3 linked regions of the Homo sapiens genome follow. The protein of the gene in region 3 purifies or fractionates together with the protein of the main gene of each other region. This does not show direct contact. Each region holds a gene or a part of one and is shown on either strand. Other genes may lie near its edges.

Region 1 (6,752 bases), on a different chromosome or scaffold from region 3:
CCCTAACATTGCCTTGAGCCCAGAGGCAGTTGTCAAAGAATGAGGACTCATGGGAAGCCTCCTGGAGGCTCGCTGACTTGGGAGCTCAAGTAGGGTAGCTGTGCTTCCTTCATCTCCCCTCCAGCAGGGATGGCACCCAGGGGGCCAGGGCAGGAACTCAGGTTTCCTCAGCCCACAAATCCCCTGGAAAAAACATGACAGGCAGGCCGCATGTGCTTTTGTCAGGTTCCTCCCTGAACCCACCCATGAGCTGCAGGCCTACCTCTCCCTCAGCAGAATCCTGGAGCTACCATTCTCAGCAAGCCTGAGCTCCCTTAGTGCCTGGGAGCTGTCAGTCTGGGAGGCTTCATGGAGGAAGCGAGACTTGGGTCAGGGAGGGCAGTGACTAAGGGGCACTTTGGAAGGGCCCAGTAAGGGCTGGGGTGCGGAGACCCAGGGGTGGTGGCATCAGAGCTGAGCCTCAAAGGACCCAGAAGCCTGGGATGTTTAAAACCTGCCCATTATGGGGTCTAGCGAACAGCTTCTTTTATTCTTGTTTGAAAGTATTTTTCTGCTTACAAAAGTAACTTATACTTGATCTAAAAAAAAAAAAAAAAAGAAAAGAAATCACACAATGTTAAAAGCAAAGATTCACCCATTTGGCCCCAGAAGCCCTGCGGACAGAGAAGAGCCTATGGCTGGGTTGGTGGCCTGGGAGGATGCGCCTGTTGTCAAGGTTACAGGGACTTGCCGGGCGCCACAGAGCAGGGGGCAAAGTTCTCCCCAGCAGCCTCAGGAGGCCCCGCTGCTAATCCACTGTCTTCTGTTCTGTCTGTGCCTGCGAGAGAAGAGGGTGGATCAGGCTGGTGTCAATGGAGATGGGAGGGCTCAGCTTGGCTGTTGGGGGTCTACCAGGCCTCACTCTCACCCCAACCAGTGGATGCTCCAGGGCCAGAAGCCTCTGCCTGACTGAGAAGTGACTGCCACTCAGGGACGCTGCTCCCAAGGCCACCAGGCCAGGGCCACAAAAGCTGCTAAAGTCATTTCCAGGAAACTTGAGGCCAAGTTTGTGCTGAGCACTGGGAAGCCGCAGCCATCGCCTCTGCTGGACCTGGGGTGGGGATGGAAGGATGGAGGAGTTGGCAGATGGGGGTGGTCGATGCCTGAGGGTGATTGCCTGCGGGACCCCTGGCGCCTGATGGAGCCCTGCTCTGCCTTTCATCTGGCGAAGATGGCTGTGCTCCAATTCTCACAAAGGCACCACGGCCCCAGGCCTAGATGGATCCCAGCAGTGAGCAGGAGTCTCAAAGGGGCTGGGAGGACCTTGAGATGGTCTCATTCCACAGAGCTCAGGTGTAACAGATCCTGAGCCAGACTCCAACCCCCTCTGCCCTCTGCAGGGACCTCCTGGTGGCCTCAGAGTGGCGACTTCGCTCCTCTGAGCCCTGCCTCCCACAGGCCATGGGGACTGCATCCTCTGCCCAAGGTTGGCAGGAGAAGCCAGGGGGACAGGCAGAGGCTCTCAGAGCAGGACTGGATGGTGGGGGCTTCGCAGTAAGAGCCAGGCACTCCCACCGGCTCTGGGAGGACGGGGTCCCTCTGAGTCCCAGAGCACTGCTCACACCAGGCCTGAGACTCCAGCAGAGGGATGGAGGCCGAGGGGTCCATTAGGTTCCTTGAAAGCTCCAAGCCTGTGGCTGCGGACACCACCATCTCAGGCATTCTGGGGTCTCAGCCCCAGGGAGGCTGTGGGGCTGTGACCCTCTGTGACCTCAGGCCACTCACCCCTCAATTTCCATCAGTGAGGCAGGGTCCCTGCACGGCCAGCAAACTGAAGGAACCTTTTCTCACAATGGGCTGCCAGGCTGAGTGCCCTGGCTGACCCCAGGGGACCACCTGTTCTGGCTGACCCCAGGGGACCACCTGTTCAGAGGTCACAAGCCAAGGCCACCTGCTACGCCTCTTCTTCTCAGGGCACGGCAGAGCCCACTCCCAGTTGGGAAGAAACCCCAACTCACCTTCTTCCCACCCACTGGGCAGCCCCCTGCCCCATCTCCCTGGAACTTCCAGTTCAAAAGGTGTACCCAGCCCATTTCCTCTGCTGCCTAGGGCCCTGCCCCCACCGCTGCCTGCCCTGGTAGAGCCCAGAGGCAGGACCTGCTGTGGGGCCAGGAGGGGACCTGTCCTCCTGCAGGGGACAGCAGGGCATGGCCTGGGCCACCTCAGGGAGAGCTGGGTGCAGGGAAAGGGGCAGCCCTGCTCTCATCCCATCTCTGCTACCATGGCCCACCTGACTATGTTCCCCAAGTCTAGCTGAAAGGTCTAGTACACAGCAGGGGCAGAGCCAAGGGCCCTGGGGAGTGGGAGCAGGGACTGAAGATGCTCAGTGCCTCCATCCATCCCATCACTCCCACAGCAAAGCACAGGGAATGAACCTGCCCCATCACCTCCAGCCAGCCCGCAGCAGCTAGGGCCACACCCCCAGCCCCACTCTCCCATGGGACCTGTGAGCCCTGAGCTGTATCTCCCCGGAGGCTTGGTGGGGGGTGATTGTGCAGAGGAGGTAGGGAGAGCAGGGGCAGTCCCGGAGAGCCAGGCTGAGGTCACTGCCTTAGTCTGCTGGGAGTCTCATCCTGCGTGACTCGAGTCTCCAGAGCCCAGCCTGCACACAGCTGCTGTTCAGTGGATGTTACTAAGTGACTGAACGGTGAGTGAGACCAAAGAAGCTTTCTAGAACATATGGAAAGGTGACCCATCAAGCCCCCGGTCTTAGAGACCCTCATCGAACAGCTGCGAGCCAAGACCTTGAAGCTGACGGCAGCTGCCTGTGGGCCCCGCCGCACCCTCAGACCCTCCCTTGTGAAGGAGCCAGTAGGCAGCGCATTCCAGAGTGGGGAACAGACACAGAGAGGCAAGGCCGCTCAGAGGCAGGGTTGGAGGTCGGCGGATGCCCAGGCCTGTGCCCTAACCCCTGTGCCACTGCTCTCCACACGTGGTCAAAGTCAGGGAACAAGGACCCGCATGCCAGGGAGAAGCGCCTGATGGAGCCAGCGCGGCTGTGGGGGCCACCCTGGGAGGTGCCGAGCTGTCCTGGGGGGCCGCTGTGGAGCCTCACCTGGGTCCTGCCTGCTCCGTTTCTGCTCAGGCTCCTGAGGGGCTGCCTCAATGGCCCGCTGGGCCTCGGGGTGGGTCTGGAGGAGGGCCTTGGCAAGGGTGGCGGGGCCGGGCACCCCCAGGGACATGACACAGTGCACACCCTTGCGCTTGGCCCCCGCCACCTTGGTGCTGTCTTTGGAGGCTGTGAGCAGGACCAGTTTGGAGAACTTTCTGGGCTTCCTGGGGGCTGCCGGGATGACTTCTGTGCCTGGCTTGGGGGATGGCTCCTGGCTGGCCTTCACACTCTCACCCTCCTGCTCGCTGGGCTCGGGCAGGGGCATCCCGGGACCCAGGGCCTGTCCCTCAGGCCACACTCAGCCCCCAGCAGGTGGATTTCTCCTACTCCCAGGCAAGGAACCTGGAGTCCAGCGGTTCCGTCCTAAGGAAGGAAGCAAAATCCCGTCAGTGGTGGAAGCCCTTGGGAGGCTCTAGACGTGGATCTGGGAGGGAGGTGGGGCAGATGGGGCTGCCTCACTGCTCGCTGGGGCCAAGACTGACAGGGGGCCTGATGGAACTAGGCTTCTGCTCTGCCAGTTCCTCTCCTGGCAGCCTTGGGAACGTCAGCCCCATCCAACCCCACTTTCCCCATCTGGAAAAGGTGCACAGTAAACACCCTCCACAAGGGGCCATCAGAATGACTAATGGACTAAGAACTCAGCCACTACCAATGGGCCTCCCACATGCTGAGCACGGACGAAGGGTTTCCACCCTGAGGACTGTTTCCAGTCCCACCTCCCACCCCTGTTATGACAGCAGGCTGTTCTTATGGACCCAGTCACAGTTGAGGACACTGAGACATGCCAGGGTGATCCACACGGCCACAGAGTGGCAGAGATGGAGTGGACACAGAGCCCATGACCACACAGCATCTGGTGTACTTTGTCCATGTTAACAGACATCAGTGTCCCTGGGCACCAAGCATCAGAGCTAAACACTCTGGGGACATTAGCTCAGTTTGTGTTGTCACAGGGAGCATGGGCCAGGCACCTGCCAGCACTTTGCAGACCATAGCACTGCAGCTGGCCCTGGCAGGTGGGACAACCAGATCCAGCCACATCCCCGTCTGAAGGCCCACATGCTCCTCTGCTCGTTGGTTCTTTTTGTTTGTTTGTTTTGGAGACGGAGTCTCGCTCTGTCGCCCAGGCTGGAGTGCAGTGGCACGATCTTGGCTCACTGCAAGCTCCGCCTCCCGGGTTCATGCCATTCTCCTGCCTCAACCTCTCCGAGTAGCTGGGACTACAGGCGCCCGCCACCACGCCCGGCTAATTTTTTGTATTTTTAGTAGAGACGGGGTTTCACCGTGGTCTCGATCTCCTGACCTCGTGATCTGCCCGCCTCAGCCTCCCAAAGTGCTGGGATTACAAGCGTGAGCCACCGCGCCTGGCCACACCCACTGGTTCTCACACCAACCTTGCGTCTGAGCTAGTGCTGGCGCTGCCCTGGCTGGGTGGGGACAGCGATGTGGAGATGTTGTGGATCCCACCGTCACTGAGGACTCCTTGGCTTCTGGCCTGGAGAAGCAGAAAGGATGGGTTGTAACCCTGTAGGGGCAAGTGCCGGGCCACCCCACACTGGTGCTGCAGCACCTCAGGACTGGGGCTCCAGGCCAGTGTGGGGTGGCCTTTCTGTCTTTTGGGGGTCAACTGGGTGGTGGGCAGACCATGGGGTCTTTCCCAGCTTACAGTTTTAGCCTAGACACAAGACTGCAGCTTGGGCAGCCACCTAGCCCCCTGTCCAGGACCCAGGCAGGACAAGGCCCAGAGACACCCACTTTCCCCTCGGGCCGATTCCCCAACCTGGGCTTGAGGTTCTCATGGTTTCCTTGGACCCCTCCCAATGCGTCTGTCCTGAGGGGTCCATGCCCAGCACCCTGGCGCTTTTTCTAAGACCCTATTGTCCATGAGAGGGGCCTAAGGATGCAGGACTGGAGTACAGGGTTGGGGGCCTTGTCCTGAGAGCTTCCCTCTGTAGTCCTCTGACCACTAAACAAAAGCAGATGTGAAGCCCCCACCCCAGGGGCACCTTCTCGAGGGGGTGGGCACTTGAAGAAATGCGCCAGGCGGCGAGTCACATGACTGCAGAGTACCGCAGGGATCGGGGTCGCGTTATCCGTCCGCCTCCGGACAAGCCAACCCCTGTTCCTCCCGTGCGGCCCTTCCGGCTCTGCTCATCTGCCTCACAGGGCGATGTGGGGATGCCGGGGACCTGGGGGCCACTCTGGGGCCGTAAAGAGTTACGGGAGGCCCCAACCACATAGCGCCCTGCTTCACACGCTGATTGGCTACGGCGCACGTCCCTCTGGCGGCCGATCTCCCCACGCCTCCCACACTCCGCAGCATGAGTGGGCAGTCCGGGCAGGAATAAATGCCAGGTTCCCTGACCCCACGTCCGAGTCCACCCCGGGTCCTCTAGCGCCTCCCGCCGTGTCGGTTCTGCCACTGCAGCGCTCCCAGACTCCAAAAAAGATGAAGCCTCTTGCATACCCAGCGTGCAAATTCCTGCAAGATACAGCAGTTGGTCCCCACAAGGCTGGCAGGGACCCAGACCTAGCAGCCTCCTCCAGGCCAGCAGCCATTCTCCGAGACCTCCACACTCACTCTGACCCCCAGACTGCACGCCTCCTTATATTAGGTTAGTGCAAAAGTAATTGCGGTTTTGCCATTGCTTTCAATGACAAAACCGCAATTAATTTTCACCAACCTAATATTTGGCACCTGAGGCACCTCCTTGCCATTCCATAGTCCCAGCCCTGCAGCCAGGCCAACTCTGAGCTGTACAAAAGGGCCCCAAAGGGGCCGGGCGCGGTGGCTCACGCTTGTAATCCCAGCACTTTGGGAGGCCGAGGCGGGCGGATCACAAGGTCAGGAGATCGAGACCATCCTGGCTAACATGTTGAAACCCCGTCTCCACTAAAAAATACAAAAAATTAGCCCGGCGTGGTGGCGGGCGCCCGTAATCCCAGCTACTCGGGAGGCTGAGGCAGGAGAATGGCGTGAACCTGGGAGGCGGAGCTTGCAGTGAGCCGAGATCGTGCCACTGCACTCCAGCCTGGGCGACAGAGCGAGAATCCGTTTCAAAAAAAAAAAAAAAAAAAAAGAAGAAAAGAAAAGGGCCCCAAAGTGACGTCAGCCCCATCTCAAATTCAAACCCCATATTAAACGAACAAGACAGACCTAAACTATTGACTAATTCTCCAAAGCGAAAAGTCAGGAAAATAAAAAAATCTCGTTAAGCTGTAACAAGAAGGGAATCGTGAAATACGTAAATTGGGCTCTTTCATATTGTGAAATATATATTTGGTGTTTGACCCTCTCTCCCAGTACATAATTCCTAAAATTCCTGGAATCTCCAAAATGATGTCTTTTTGTATGCTTAGGCACTGACTGATGGCTGGCAGCCCCTGGGCTGCTTCAATGGGGCTGGTCACCAGAAAGACCAAGGCAGGGTTAGAGGGTTGGGACTTTCAGCCCCTCCTCCAAACTCCAGGAAAGGGAGAGGGCCTGAAGGTTAAGTTGATCACCAATGGCCTATAGTTCAATCAATCATGCCTATGTAATGAAGCCTCCATAAAAACCCAAAAGGAGAGGGTTCCGAGAGCTTCCAGGAACACATGGAGT
Region 2 (7,821 bases), on a different chromosome or scaffold from region 3:
TTTCAGACTCCTCCCTCTCCTCCTGACCTACCAACCCCCACTAAGATTCTGATATAGTCCCCAAGGTATGGCAGCAGAGTATAGTGGTTATAGTAAGGGGACTAAGTGGTTATAGTAAGGGGACATTGGCTGAGTATGAGGACATTGGTTATATGAGGGGACATTGGTTATAGTAAGGGGACATTGGCTGAGTATGAACTTTGGAGCCTGATGCCTTGGGCTCAAATCCTTTACTTTTCCTCCTACCAGCCATGTAACTCTGGGCAAATTAGTCTTAGTTTCTCCATCTGTAAAATGGGGATAGTAATATTACCTATGTGTTACAATAGTTGGGAGGATTAAGGTGTTTAAGAGGAGCCCTTGGTACAAAGTAAGTGCTTGATTTTTCATTGTTTTATTGTTGATTGCTGTCACTAGAATCAGTTACTGGAGTGGACTGATCAATAGCCCTACCTCCAGTGAATGTCCAGAAGGGCTGCATCAGGCTCCATATAGTATCTCACATAGTGTTTGACACTCAGTCAAAATCTGTGGAATGAATGAGTGTGCGAATGTAAATTACTAAAGATGGCCGAAACTCCCAAAACCATATTTAGCAAAAGCAGAAAAAAGGCTATAACTCCTAAAGGTAAAGCTGTCCTCTAGTATTCCAAGGGCCTTGTCCAGACCTCCTCTTGAAAGATACCTATTACTCATTGTGTTAAACATATTAAATACATTATTTCATTCAATCCTTACAACTTTGCTTTAACATATATGTATTATTACCATTTTATGGAGAAACAGGTTTATAGAGGTTACACCCAAAGGGCATGCAATTAGTTAAATGGTAAAGCTGGAATTGGGATCCAGGTCTGTAAGACTCTAGAGAGTATGTTCTTAATTGCTAATTTACACTATCTTCCAAGATGCAGACTACCTACCAGTCTGAGGACTCCAGCATGTCACCTCATTGGTGCCACTAGCCTGAATGAAATCAGATCACACAGGCACCAAGGAAAACAGAACCCTCTCAAAGGAAAAATGACAATGCTATATAAAACTGCCAATTTAGATAATCAGTTCAAAAAACATTTTGTGATCACTAATTTATTCTGGTCTAGGAATTATGGTAGGTGCTGGAGTACAAAGATGAATAAGACAATCAAGCGGGAGATAGACATATACACAGATCATTTCAGTATAGCATGGCCAGTGGTAAGGTACTGAGGAGCAGGCATGGGGTGCTATGGGAGCACAGGCTGCTATGAGAGCATGCACAGGCCCTTTCTGCATATGGGGAGGATTCCTGAAGGAGATGATTCTTAAGCCGAATAATGCAGGATTGAAGGGGAAGAATGTAGGGATGGGAATTACTAGCACAGAAATACGAACAAACATGGTTTAAGCGGAGATCTATGAGCAGTTTGGTATTATTGGGAAACAGGAGGCAGGCAGTGGTGGAAGAAGGGACTGCAGAGGAAGACAGAGATCAGATAAGGAAGGGCCCTGAAATGGCCTGTGCAAGGACTTGGTCTTAACCCAGATGGCAGTGGAAAGCTGACAAAGGGTTTTAGGCAGGGGCAAGTTTGGACAGATACACATTTTAGAAAGCTCATTGGCGGCAATGTGCAGAATGAATGGAGGGGGTATGTTATAGGGAGTTATTTTTAGCTCTTTATGCATGGACTTGCACTCAGTCACACACACACAATAGTTAATATCTGAATATGTATGCTTAGCATCTGAATATGTATGTTGAACATCAATTGAGCATACAAAGATTAATGGAGAGAATGTTTTAATTGGCGGCCATGTCAATTGCCTTTTCAACTTTTCCTCCTCCACTTTGAAATATAATATTTCCTTCATACTTAATCCTAGGAAATTTGGTATAAGCAAGTTGTTTGCCGAGAAGGGAGGAAAAGAGGAAAAGGAACAGAGTGGCAGAGTGTTCTGAGTCGTCATTTTTCTGGGGATTAGTGTGGTGTCCATGGGAGGCAGATTTTGCATTTTCGAAGCTCTCATATAATTATTTTCACAATTGTATTCCCCTCCAACACTTGTGAGGAGATTTATAACTTTCTTATTTTTTTCATATTTATCTATATTATTTTAGAACACCAAATTTCTAGAAATACTTCTGAGATGAGTAAGACCAATCTCCAGCTTATGTGGGAAGATACTACCATAAAGAAATTAAGAATCTGAACCTGGGCTGGACGCGGTGGCTCACGCCTATAATCCCAGCACTTTGGGAGGCCGAGGGGGGCAGATCGTTTGAGTCCAGGAATTGAAGACCAGCCTGGGAAACATGGTGAAACCCCATCTCTACTAAAAATACAAAAATTAGCTGGGTGTGGTGGTGCATGCCTGTAATCCCAGCTACTTGGGAGGCTGAGGCACGAGAATCGCTGGAACCCAGGAGGCAGAGGTTGCAGTGAGCCGAGATCGTGCCACACACTCCAGCCTGGGCGACAGAGCGAGACCCTGTCTCAAAAAAAAAAAAAAAAAAAAAAAAAAAAAAAAATCAGAACCTGTTCCTTGGGGGTAAAGAGGATGCTTGGACTAGCAAGGGGTATGATACTAGATGGTGGGCAGCTGGGACTCCTACATTTGGAAGGCACTGATTGACAAGAGAGACTGGGAAATCACCTCTCCCATTTGAAGAGATGGGGAAATTAGGGAGGTCAGGCACCCTAGTGTCCACTGGGAGTATTAAGTTCCTCTGCTGTGAAAAAAGCTTTTGGGGGGATTTGACTCCCGAGGGGCTCCAAATGGATGTGGCTTGTAAGAAAGGTCCCTGGTTATAAGAGTGAAGTGTGTAGGGGTGCGGGTCTGGCTGTGGGTGTTAGGGCGATGATGAGAGGGCCGGGCTGCTGGCTGCGGGTCTGGCTGAGCGGGCCGGGGGCCTCTCACCTTTGCGGGCCTTGTCTCCCGGGATGTTCTGGGCCCGCAGCCGTTGGTCGAGGATGTAAAGCATCTCCCCGCCCAAGTTCAAGAAGAGCAGCGGTAGCGTCCGCACCGACATGGTGCTGGAAACGAGCTGGACTGGTGAAGAGCCCCGGGGTTCGGTAGCCAGTGGCCTGAAGGCCAGGCCGCAGCGTCCCAATAGTCCGGTTGCTGGGGCAACGCCGTGACGGGAAGAGCGAGCCAATCAGAAGGCGGTTTGGTGGGAGGTGCCCTGAAGACGGGAGCTAATTGGTCTGGGTGGTGGACCGTCCCGGGGGGATTGGTCCGAGCCAGAGGCCGGCGCGGCGTTGGGCGCGGCTGGGGAGCTGTGCTTCTGAGAGTAGGTTTCCCTCGAAAGGGCGAGGGCCGGGCCAGGGCTGGGGGTGGTCTCGACACAGCCAGCCCGGCGCTTGGGACCCCGGCCGCTGGCGCGGGGCCTCAGGTTCCTATAACAGAGGAAAGCCCAGGCAGAACGGCATTAGAGCAGGCTCGGGTCAGACGGACCTGGGTTGGAATCACGGCTCGTGATTTCTTGCTGTGTGACTTCGGGCAGGGTTTGAGCCTTGGCTTCCTCTTACGTAACATGGAGCTGGCACTCACATCACAGGGCGGCTGAGAGGAATCAGTCAGATCATGGAAAGGCCCCGAAAGCACTCAATAAAAATGGTAACTGACTTTTCTTTTAGACGAGGGAAGGATCAGAAGTCCTGAGTCGTTTGCATCGCCTCCCAAAAGTTTACTTGAAGTGAAGCCCCTCCTGGTTTCATACTCCATGAAGCAAACCAGTCCCGTCCGTCCCCGTGTGTCCAGTTCCCAGAGGATGCGCCTGGGGGCTCTGGGAAGTTCCCTCCTCGACGCTGTTCCGAAGGCCTCCCAACCATTTCTTTTTTCTTTTTTTTTTTTTTTTGAGACGGATTTTGCCCTTGTCGCTCAGGCTGGAGTGCAGTGGCGCCATCTCGGCTCATTGCAACTTCCGCCTTCAGGGTTCAAGCGATTCTCCTGCCTCAGCCTCCCGAGTAGCTGGGATTACAGGCGCCCGCCACCATGCCCGGCTAATTTTTGTATTTTTAGTAGAGACGGGGTTTCACCATGTTGGCCAGGCTGGTCTGGAACTCCTGACCTCAGGTGATCTGCCCGCCTGGGCCTCCCAAAGTGCTGAGATTACAGGCGTGAGCTATCACGCCCGGCCCCAACCATTTCTCTTTGAGGGCAGCGACTCCCTTCCTTACCTCCATCTTAAGCTCCAGGATTACTTTTTGCCATCTGCTGTATATTTTTACTCTGATGAACAACCATTTCTGTAAATTTCAGTACTTCCAAAACCTACTAATTATCTTTCCCTCCAGCTACTCAAACTTGAAACTTGGGCCTTGGCTTCCAAATCTGTTTCCCAGGGTCTTTTATCAGTCATCATATTATGCTTTTTCCTCCAACACCTTTCTTACATTCATCCCTTCATTTGTTTTTCTGTCTGCATTGCTATGTTCCTCTGTATCACTGTTCTTTTCTCTCTTCTACCTTGCACTGGCTGCTAAGCTAAATGTCAGAAGACATCACTTTTTTTTTTTTGAGATGGAGTTTCACTCTTGTCGCGCAGGCTGGTGTGCAATGGCACGATCTCGGCTTACTGCAACCTCCGCCTCCTGGTTTCAAGCGATTCTTCTGCCTCAGCCTCCTGAGTAAGCTGGGATTACAGGCATGGACCAGGGCACCATGCCCGGCTAATTTTGTATTTTTAGTAGAGATGGGGTTTCACCATGTTGGCCAGGCTGGTCTCGAACTCCTGACCTCAGGTGATCTGCCCGCCTCGGCCTCCCAAAGTGTTGGGATTACAGGCATGAGCCACTGCGCCCGGCCAGCATCACTGTCAACATGACACATCCCTTCAGTGGTTTCCTACTCTTTGCCAGATCACAGTCTAGATGCCTTGGCATGGCATTCCAGGCTCTCCACAGGCTCCAGCTACCTTTTTTTTTTTTTTTTTTTTAAAGAGATAGGGGTCTTACTTTGTTGCCCAAGGTTGGAATGCAGTGGCACCCTGGTGGCTCACTGCAGCCTAGAACTCCTAGCCTCAAGTGATTCTTCCACCTCAGACTCCTTAGTTGTTGGGATTTCAGGTGAGAGCCACCATACCCGGCCAACTACCTTTTTAAAGCCATCTCCTGCACCTGGCCACCTCCTCTCCCCCAGTCCAGTTGAACTTGTCAGCAGGCTGCCTCTTCCTCATTACCACACCACTGAAAAGTCTTGTCCTGCCATAACTGAGCCCAAGTCCTTCCCATATTAACATTCTCCTTCCATCCCTGCTAGTCTGTTTTCCTTCCTTTCCTTCCCAGTGAAGTGTTTTGAACGAGTTGACAACACTCACAACTGGAACCTCCTTAACATCCTCACTCCCCACCTCATTGCAACTGGTATTATGCTCCCTGAACCCCACTGAAACTGCTTCACCATGAATACTTTTTGGTCCTTCCCTTAACTGATATCTCAGCATCAGGACTATACAGTATCCCATGGCTGGCAGCCCAAGGCTTTGTTTAATTTGGTTATTTTGCCTGCTCTGTGCTCTGTTTTAAAAGGGAATACAGGCCAGGCGCAGTGGCTCACACCTGTAATCCCTGCACTTTGGGAGGCCAAGGCCAGCAGATCACTTGAGGTCAGGAGTTCAAGACAGGAGTTCAACACCAGCCTGGCCAACATGGTGAAACCCCATCTCTACTTCGCTGGGTGTGGTGGCACACACCTGTAATCCCAGCTACTGTGGACGCTGAGGCAGGAGAATCGCTTGAACCTGGGACGGGGAGGTTGCAGTGAGCCAAGATCACACCACTGCACTCTAGCCTGGGGGACAGAGCAAAAACTCTGTCTCAAAAAAATTAAAATAAATAAATAAGAGGGAATACAACTAGGATAGGAATGTAATAAACACCTTAGCATCATTACTTCATGTTAGGCCTTCATGCATTTTTGTTACCTGCCTTGCTCCCAAAAGCATTTGAGTTTGCTGTAGTGTACTCTTCCCTTAGCTTCTCAGACCTTTTTCTTGGTCCCTAAGCAGTGTGGTATAGTGAACAGGACATAGGCTCTGGAGTCAAGACAGAGCCAGCTTTGAATCCTAGACCTTTCTCTTCCCAGCTATATGAATTTGGACAAGTTACCTAACCTCTCTGAGTCTCAGTTCTCTCATGACTCTCTCATCTCTCATGGCTAAAATGAGGATAATTAGCCAATGTGCAGAGTAAAGGTGGCTGTGAATATTAGATAATGTGCCTAAGGAAGCAGTTAAAACAATGCCTTTTGACCGGATGCAGTTGCTCGCGCCTGTAATCCCAGCACTCTGGGAAACCAAGGCATTTGGGAGGGCAAGGATTGCTTGAGGCCAAGAGTTTGAGTAACCTGGGCAACATAGTGAGACCCTCTCTACAAAAAATAAAAAAATTAGCTAAGCGCAGTGGCTTACACTTATAGTCCTAGCTACTTAGGAGGCAGAGGCAAGAGGATTGCTTGAGCCCAAGAATTTGAAGTTAGTGAATTATGATCAGGCTACTGCACTCCAGTTGGGGCAACAGAGCAAGATCCTGTCTCTAAAAAAACAACCAGCCAAACCAACCAACCAACCAACGAAAAACACACAAATGCCTTTGCAGTAGGGCCTGATCCATTAAAATGTGTTCCTTTTTCTTTCCTTCCCCTTGGCTAGCCCCCTTAACTGTTAGTACCTGGCCCTCTGACACACTACCTCTAAGTAGCCGTGGCCACTTGGAAGTCCTGGCCCATTAAAGGCCTTCCCTACAATTCCTGGAAGTGATATCTGAATAGTGGATCTTCAGTTCTGAGCCTCTCATTTCTGCTTCTGCAGACACCCAGGCTCTGTTCTACCCCTACTTCACCTTCTCCTCCAGCTCAGCTGCTCCTTCTGACTTAGGCTAAGCTCTCAGGGATCATCCTTCCCATCCAGACATGGTCCTTTTTTCTTATACACTCCATCCCTGGGCAGTTTCACTTATGCCCATGGGCTCAATCACCCAACAACTCGCAAACCTCTCTAGTCCAGACCTCTCTACTGAGTCCTAGATCTAAACTTCCAACTGCTCTTTGGATAGCACTTTAGCACACCTTTCTCCCTTTTTGGCTTTCCTCAGTGGCTTCCCTTCCCAGAGTGAAGTCCAGTGTATTTCTCCAGTGTTATGGGCCGAATGTGTCCCCGACCAAATTCATATGTCGAAGCCCTAACTCCAATGTTACAGTATTTAGAGATGGGGCTTCTCAGAGTTAACTAGGGTTACATAAGGTCGTGAGTACGGCCCTCATGATGGGATTAGTGGCCTTGTAAGAGTGAGCTCTCCCCACTGCATGGACCAAGGGAAAGGCCATGTGATGACATTGAGAAGGTGGCTTTTCCAAGCTAGGAAGAGTCCTCACCTGAAACTGAATTGGCTGGTACTCTGATCTTGGAATCCCCAGCCTCCAGAACTGTGAAAAAACGAACTCAAAATAAAAATCCTGTGAAGTCACCTAATCTATGGTATTTTGTTATGGCAGGCTGAGACACCCAGAAAGCTCTACATCACCTGGTATTTGCCTACCCCTCTGACCTTGTCTTCTTACTATTCTCTTTGTTCTGTTTTAGACACATTGTCTTCCTTGGGTTCTTCAAACATACCAAGCATGCTCAGGCTTCAAGGTGTTGGCACTTAACTTGGTGTAAATGGATGGGCTTTATGGGGAACGGGGATCCATAACTCCCTAGAATTTATAAGCAATGCTTTTGCATATGCTTCCTGGGGATAGGACTTGTAGTTTTGATCAGATTCTCTACGTGAACACTGATATCCTCCAGCCCCAGTACACTGCTCTGATCTCTCCTCCTCCCATCTACCATCCACACAG
Region 3 (7,666 bases):
TGTATACAGGGCAGGAGGGGAAGGGAGGCAGTGTGTGCATCTTTGCCTCTCCAGGGAAAGGGCAAGGTGTGGAGCTCTCACTAGCTAGACCCATCAGAAACCACCCCTACCACCAGGGTTCCCTTGGGAAGCATGAACTGCTTTCCTTGAATTTCTTCATGGAGTCCCATCCCCCAATAACATTAGGAGGGGGTGCATAATTGCCTCACTGGATGGATGATAAAACTGAGGCCACAGTGTCGTGACCTTCTGGAGGTCTCGTAGTGAACCAGTCACAGTCATGACTAGACCCTGGGCCCCTGCACCCCCAACACCAGGCAGCCAACACAACCTATGGGCCTAGCCCTATGCCAGGTACAATGGAGAATATGAATAAGAAAATATACACCCTGTTCTCAAGAGGTTTGCAAATTACTTGGGGAGACAAGAGTTGTCTTTTGAGGGCAGTGCCAATTCAGGTTTCAGCTAAGAGACATCAGTGGGAGCTAGAATATGGGGAAGGCTTCCTGGAGAGGATGGATGGCACTGGAGCTGGGCCTGAATAGGTGGGACTTGCCCTAGAGAAGGAAGCTGCACATTTCAGAGCTGGAAAGTATCTTAGAAACCATTTGTTCCAACTCCTCATTTCACATCAGTATTATAAAGTCTTAATTAACTATAAAATACTACATAAATGTAAAGTATCTCTGGCTTTATCACTGAACCTGGTTGCTGAAGACTAGGAAAATGTAGATTTGCCCAAAGCCATCCACCTGTTTAGTGGCAGAGCCAAGACTCAAAGCCAGGTCCCCTGCCTCCCAGGGTGGGGAAGGCTCCCAGATGGGTAGGGGAAGTCCACTCACCTGTCCCTGGGCAGGCTCGGTGGCAATGTCTGTGATTGGCATCTGGTGCCCAGCCAGCTCCTCGCTCAGTACAATGTTGGGACCCTTTGCTGGGATGTCAAACACCAGCACCCGGCCTGACCACGTTCCTGTATCCAGAACCAGTACTCCAGTGATGACTTCCTGACCCTCCTGGGTCTCCAGCCACCATACTCAACACTTACTCCATCCCAGAAACCTTAGTAACAAAACCCCCTCTCACTGCTCCAACGGCCATGCCCCTTCATTCACTAGCCTTGTCTTATCCCACCCTGACCCTCTGAACCCTTCCATGGTTTACTGGAGTCTCTGATTCCACTCCACTTCCACCCTTCCCTCTAACTTTCCACAATTTCCTCAGGCCCTCATTATTCTCCTGGCCACAGCCCACATGCCCCAGCACCCCTCCATGCCCTGCACTTGGCTCCCTCACCCACACAGATGAAGTGGCCACTGGCAGCAATTCCCCGGGCAAACACAGCCTGTACTGAATATGAAAGGGGAGAATGATCAGAAATATCCCCTCCTGCAGCCCTAGCAAACACTCCCTGCCCCCACCCCACTTGGTCCTGCAGGTACCTGGGGAGGCATCTCCAGAGTCCAGTGCATGCCAGTAGACCATGGTGTAGCCATTGGACTCGTACATCTGGAAGACCGGGGCAAGAACCAGGGGGCATAACCCAACTGACCTCTGCTGAGTACTTCACATATCCGTGTTAGCCTTAGCCCATTTAATCCTCAAAACAAATCTGGGATGTAGGTACTATTTTTATCCTAATTTTTTCAGAGGACAACAGTGAGAGTGAGAAGTTAATAGTGTAAGGACATACAGCTAGTAAAGGGGCAGATACTGGAGGTGGCACTTGGAAACTGGAAAAGATGGAAAGATTGAAGATAAGAAATAGAAAAAGAGTGAGTGGGCCAAGCATGTGAAAAGTCTGGAAGTGTTTAGAGGCAAGTGGGAAAGTCTGGAAGCCTGGCAGGGAAGCTGAGAAGGCTCTGGTGGGGCAAGCAGGAGAGTCCTCTTCTTACCTGTATTCCTCGATGTGAGGTGAGTACCAGCAGCACTCGGAAGGGGAGGACACACCAGTGGACCTGGAGGGAGGTGCATCAGTGTAGGGAGAAAATCAAAGCAGGGAAGATGAGTTTGTTTGTTTTTTTTTTTTTTTTGGGGGACGGAGTCTTGCTCTGTGGCCCAGGCTGGAGTGCAGTGGCGCCATCTCGGCTCACTGCAACCTCAGCCTCCTGGGTTCAAGCGATTCTCCTGCCTCAGCCACCCAAGTAGCTGGGATTACAGGTGCACGCCACCACACCCGGTTAATTTTTTTTGTATTCTTAGTAGAGAAGAGGTTTCACCATGTTGGCCAGGCTGGTCTCGAACTCCTGGCCTCAAGTGCCCGTCTCAGCCTCCCAAAGTGTTGGGATTACAGGCGTGAGCCACCGCGCCCGGCAGGAGAGGGGAGATTCTGAGGTTAGGACATGCCTGGGGAGATTCTGAGGTTAGGACATGCCTGCTCCTGAAGGTTTGGAGAGAAAAGGCTGGGGGTAGGACTGGGTTCAGCAACATCACTCCCAGCTCCATGCCTCACCTGAGTGATAAGTGGGGGACTCACTCCAGCACCCTCCTTAGCGTGGAGCTGGCGCTGGGCCAAGGGCACACCCTCAGGAGCAGCGCTGAGAAGCTGGGCGCTTGGTCCATGAACCACGCCAAAATACGTGAGGTTGCGAGCCGGCAGCTGCAGCACACTGAGGTTGTTGCACAGGGCGGCGGCCGAGCCTCGCAGGGGAATGGAGCGCTCCCAGCGGAACATCCTGTGTGGGGGTGCAGCCGAATCACCAGGCGCGCTACAAACAGACGCAGCGGAGATGCCCGAGGGCGGCTATCATCGAGCATTTCGGAAGATGCCTGAGACTGGGTCATAGGATGGGGTGCCCAGAGGACGGTGATGGGGGAGGGTCTCGAGGAGCAAGACAGGGGAGTCCCAGGGCTGTTTTGGGGCGACGGGGGAATCGCAGAGGAGGAATGGGGATGACACAGGACCACCCGATGGCCCCAAGCCCGCGAGCCAAATAAGTGTGATGAAGCCCCCAAGGCTTTCTCCCTCGGCTCGGATCCCTGAAGCCCCCGGCCTAGATCAGAGGTAACACCTGCAGCCCCAGATCGGCTCGCCTGACTCCTGGTTCGTAGGGTCCCTCCAAATCCGCCGCCACCATAGAGACGACGCACGTACGCACGGCCCTTGGGCGGGGTGAGCGGCCGGAACGTGCCGCGGGCGGCGCGGTTGCCGGGGCAACTGTGGGCGGGGCGAGCGACCCCGAGCCCGTGGTTGCCCAGGCGACTGTTAGGTGGCTTACGCGGCCCGGATGCAGCAGAAACACCAGCGTTGCTGCGACCGCGTTGGCGATGGCGCACGAAGGCTCGGTGAGCTTCAGTTCAGCTGGGGATGCGCCAGAGCCAGGGTCGGCCGTTAAGGTCGGTGTCGGGAACAGTGGGCTGGCTCTGGGCCGCCCAGTGCCCCTACTTGCTCCCGCCCACCGCGCGGGAGTTTAGATGACCAAGGAAGCCACGTCGGTACTCGGGCAGAAAACCTACACCTGCACGGTGCCCACTCAAACGCTTTGTTACACTCAAGCCATGAGGGAAAGGGTCAGTGGGTGGTGTAGAGCCCGAGAACAGGAAGTGGATTTTGAAACAGCTAATGAATGTAGTAAGTCTCTTACATGGTGGTGCGTATTTAAATGGATGAGCATTTAGAGAGGGAAGATAACAGAAAAAATCTATTTCGAGAATTTCAAGAGGAAGAAATATATTAAATAATTCAGAGACTGCACTTGAAAGTCAAATTGTTTAAGAGCCAATCAATTTTAAAATAAAGAAAACGGGGCCGGTCTCAATGGCTCATGCCTGTAATCCCAGCACTTTGAGAGGCTGAGGCGGGAGGATTGCCTGAGCTCAGGAGTTCAAGACCAGCCAGGCCAACATGGCGAGACCCCGTCTCGACTAAAATACAAAAAATTAGCTGGATGTGGTGGCGCGGTGCCTGTAATCCCAGCTACTCGGGAGGCAGAGGCAGGAGAATTGCTTGAACTCGGGAGGCGGAGGTTGCAGTGAGCCGAGATCGCGCCACTGCGCTCTAGCCTGGGTGACAGAGAGAGACTGTCTCAAAAAAAAAAAAAAAAAAAAAAAAAAAAGAAGAAGAAGAAAGAAAACGGATTTGAAGAGCCTTTGTGCAAAAATATCTCTGTCCCTTCTGGTCACCATCACGGGTGTCAGATGCGAGGCTGGGAGGGGAGGTCTAAGGAAACAACTCTCTTTACTCAGTCCAGTCAGCCCTGCTCTAGTCAAGCTTGGCCTGGGCTATGGGCCACTCCTGGTGCTTGCTACAGGGCTGTTCTCACTGGTGGATAGGGTTAATGAGACTTCAGGGATTTTGAGTTCTGCAAGACTTAGGAAACAGCAGATTTGGGGGGATAATGAATTTTAGGAAACAGATATGAGACAAGGTTTTAGCGGGGCAATAGGCAAAGGTTTGGGAAGATCACATTTGGAAGTACATTTTGGAAGGAACCAGGTTCAGGGAGACTGTTGTGGGGAATTGAGGGAGCTCCCAAGAGATTGTTTGTAAACTTTTTATGTCTCTAAAGTGAGTTTTGGGGACTAGTCTTTTTTTTTTTTTAAGTGATTACAAAAGGAAACAAACTCATTGTAGAGAACTTACAAAATAGAAAAGAGCATAGGAAGGAAACGTATCCTCTGTTATCATTTTGAAGTTTTCCTTTTGTTGAACACATAGTGGTTTACATATATGAGATCATAATTGATGTGTAAGTTTGTATCCTGCTTCTTTCAATTAACGTTACATCATAAACATTTGCTTTATGCCATTGCAAATTCTTTCTAAAGATTACCTTTAATGGCTGGGTTGGTGGCTCATGCCTGCAAGGTGGGCAGATCACTTGAGGCCAGTTCAAGACCAGTCTGGCCAACATGGCGAAACCCCATCTCTACTAAAAATAGAAAAAAAATTAGCCAGGCCTGGTGGCAGGCGCCTGTAATCCCAGCTACTCCGGAGGCTGAGGCAGGAGAATTGCTTGAACCTGGGAGGCAGAGGTTGCAGTGAGCCGAGATCTTGCCACTGCACTCCAGCCTGGGTGACAGAGCGAGATTCCGTCTCAAAAACAAAAACAAACAAACAAAAAAAGATTACCTTTAATCATTGCATAATATTTCAGTATATATAGCATGTCAATTATTTATTCTCTTTTTAAAGACATGTTTTCAATATTCTGCTATTATAAAAATACCGCAGAGAATTTGTTGGAGAATATATTTTTATCTTCATTTCAGAAAATGCCTTTTGGTTGTATTTATAGAACTGAAATTGCAGGGTTGAGGAAGTGAAAACATTTTTTAATGTCTTCATGCATACTGTTGCAGCATGGTATCACACTAAACCTTTGCCAATGCTGAGTATTCTTGTTTTTAAAATAATTCCAATTTGATGAACTAGAAATCAGAATGTCAATACTATATTTATTAGTCATCTACAGTCCCTCTCTTGTGAAATGTCATGTCCTTTGCTTATCTTTGGGATCTTAAATGGTTTTTCTTCTTATAGTTTAAATTTTTATTGCAATATAGCCCAAGCTGGACTTGAACTCCTGGGCTCAAGCAATCCCCCTGCCTCAGCCTCCCGAGCAGCTGGTACTGTGGGTGTGCGCCACTGTGCCTGGCCATTTTTCTTCTTCTATTTTTTATTTTATTAGTTTTTTTTTTCTTTTTTGAGACAGAGTCTCGCTCTGTCACCCAGGCTGGAGTTCAGTAGCATGATCTCAGCTCACTGCAAACTCTGCCTCCCGGGTTCAAGTGATTCTCGTGCCTCAGCCTCCCTAGTAGCTGGAATTACAGGCGCCCACCACCATGCCTGGCTAATTTTTGTATTATTAGTAGAGACGGGGTTTCACCATGTTGGCTAGGCTGGTCTCGAACTCCTGACCTCAAATGATCCACCCACCTCGGCCTCCCAAAGTGCTGGGATTACAGGCGTGAGCCACTGCGCCCGGCCATTTTTTTTTTTATATGAGCTTTTAATTTACTCGGGGATATTTATCTTTTTTCATATTTGTTGCAAATGTCTTTGAGAGGCTCTGGAGTCAGACAGACTTGCATGTGAATGCATTCTGACTTCACTACATCCTACTTGTATGATACTGGGTAAATTACCATAAAATGGAGATAAGAATAGTTGGTTAAAAAAAAAAAATGTAGAGAACTTTTTAAGCTCCCCTGAGCCGGGGCTGTGCTCTTCTAAGTGGGACTCCGAGCCTGGGCTATTTCTGGCGCTGGCGCGGCTCCAGGAAGGCATCCGCATTTGCGACCAGGGGCGGCTGCGGTGGAGACTGGCCTGTCCTCAGCGCCCAGCACCGCTGCTCCCGGCAAACCGGAGCATGCACCGCAGGCCAGCGGCCGAGTTCGCCCATCCCAGCCATCACTTTTCCAACTAGTCCTTAGAGAAGGGAAGATGAGCGAGTCGAGCTCGAAGTCCAGCCAGCCCTTGGCCTCCAAGCAGAAAAAGGACGGCACTGAGAAGCGGGGCCGTGGCAGGCCGCGCAAGCAGCCTCCGGTGAGTCCCAGGACAGCGCTGGTAGGGAGTCAGAAGGAGCTCAGCGAAGTGCCAACACCTAAGAGACCTCGGGGCCGACCAAAGGGAAGCAAAAACAAGGGTGCTGCCAAGACCGGGAAAACCACCACAACTCTGGGAAGGAAACCAAGGGGAAGACCCAAAAAACTGGAGAAGGAGGAAGAGAAGGGCATCTCGCAGGAGTCCTCACTGGAGGAGCAGCTTCCTTCTGGGACTGGACAGCTTTGATCTGCTCCCAACCCCCCACCTCCCACCCCCCACCCCTTCCCTACACCCACCATCACCACCGCCTCCAGCCACCACCCTCATCTTCCACCTGCACCTTCACCACCACACTACACAACACACCAGCCGCTGCAGGTCCCTATGGGCTGAGTGGAGAGGACTTTTCCCCTGGCCTCTTCCCATCCCTACCCCCTCCTCCCCCCGTCCACCCACTCATACACATGTGCCCTCCTGGACAAGGCTAATGTCCTGCTTAGCCGCACCCTGCACCTGCTGCGTCCCTGATCCCTTGGTGGTGACATTGCTCTCTGGGCTTTTGGTTTGGGAGCCACTTCTCTGCTCCTCCACTGTTGCCTCTGGCTTCCCATAGAGGGGCCTGGGAGGGTTCCCCTGGTCTTAAAAGGGGCCCAAGCCCCCATTCTGGCACACCCCACTCCACTGTCCTGGCAGCAGCAGGTGTGGCCAATGGAGGGGGGTGCTGGCCCCCAGGATTCCCCCAGCCAAACTGTCTTTGTCACCACGTGAGGCTCACACCTTTCATCCTTCCCCACCTTCCCTAGTCCCTGCACTAGGTTGGACAGCCCCCATTGGCTACAGGAAAGCGGGAGGGGTGTGAGTCCCCTACTCCCTCTTTGCAGTGGCCCCAGCCCCCTTACCGTCTGCCTGGGATCTGAGTACATATTGCAGTGATGGAGATGCAGTCACCTATTGTCCAGGTGAGGCCCATGAGCCCTGTGGCAGCTACCTGAGGTGGGCTGGGGCTGCTCCCCCAACCCTACTTTGCTTCTACCACTTGGCCATTTTCCTCTCCTCAGATGGGGCACCAATAACAAGGAGCTCACCCTTCCCACTCCCAGCCCTCCTGCTCCTGCCACCCCCCCAGGTTCTGGTTCCATTTTTCCTTTGTTCACAAACTACCTCTGGACAGTTGTTTTGTTT

Evidence for each region.
Region 1: the proteins of WDR54 (region 3) and FLYWCH2 purify together in Homo sapiens (affinity purification with mass spectrometry; 3 studies listed by BioGRID and IntAct, with this or other methods). This does not show direct contact.
Region 2: the proteins of WDR54 (region 3) and OSCP1 purify together in Homo sapiens (affinity purification with mass spectrometry; 3 studies listed by BioGRID and IntAct, with this or other methods). This does not show direct contact.

Annotation. Positions count from the first base shown.
Region 1 is NC_000016.10:2,893,114-2,899,865, reverse strand, and holds the end of FLYWCH2 (FLYWCH family member 2), read right to left. Parts: intron 4,647-6,752; 5' UTR 4,546-4,646; intron 3,515-4,545; 5' UTR 3,417-3,514; coding exon 3,095-3,416; intron 1,091-3,094; coding exon of another isoform or gene 1,020-1,090; exon of another isoform or gene 912-1,019; intron 818-911; coding exon 717-817; 3' UTR 501-716; downstream 1-500.
Region 2 is NC_000001.11:36,447,360-36,455,180, forward strand, and holds the start of OSCP1 (protein OSCP1), read right to left. Parts: upstream 3,093-7,821; 5' UTR 3,011-3,092; coding exon 2,899-3,010; intron 2,207-2,898; exon of another isoform or gene 2,099-2,206; intron 529-2,098; exon of another isoform or gene 482-528; coding exon of another isoform or gene 454-481; intron 1-453. UniProt on the Homo sapiens protein: May be involved in drug clearance in the placenta.
Region 3 is NC_000002.12:74,417,159-74,424,824, reverse strand, and holds the start of WDR54 (WD repeat-containing protein 54), read right to left. Parts: upstream 3,096-7,666; 5' UTR 3,075-3,095; coding exon of another isoform or gene 3,009-3,074; intron 2,706-3,008; exon of another isoform or gene 2,673-2,705; coding exon of another isoform or gene 2,672-2,672; coding exon 2,450-2,671; intron 1,956-2,449; coding exon 1,893-1,955; intron 1,507-1,892; coding exon 1,440-1,506; intron 1,348-1,439; coding exon 1,294-1,347; intron 971-1,293; coding exon 843-970; intron 1-842. Other genes in the region: uncharacterized protein C2orf81, read left to right, coding at 3,265-3,282. UniProt on the Homo sapiens protein: Plays a role in the adhesion and fusion of the sperm-oocyte membrane through its interactions with IZUMO1 and IZUMO1R/JUNO.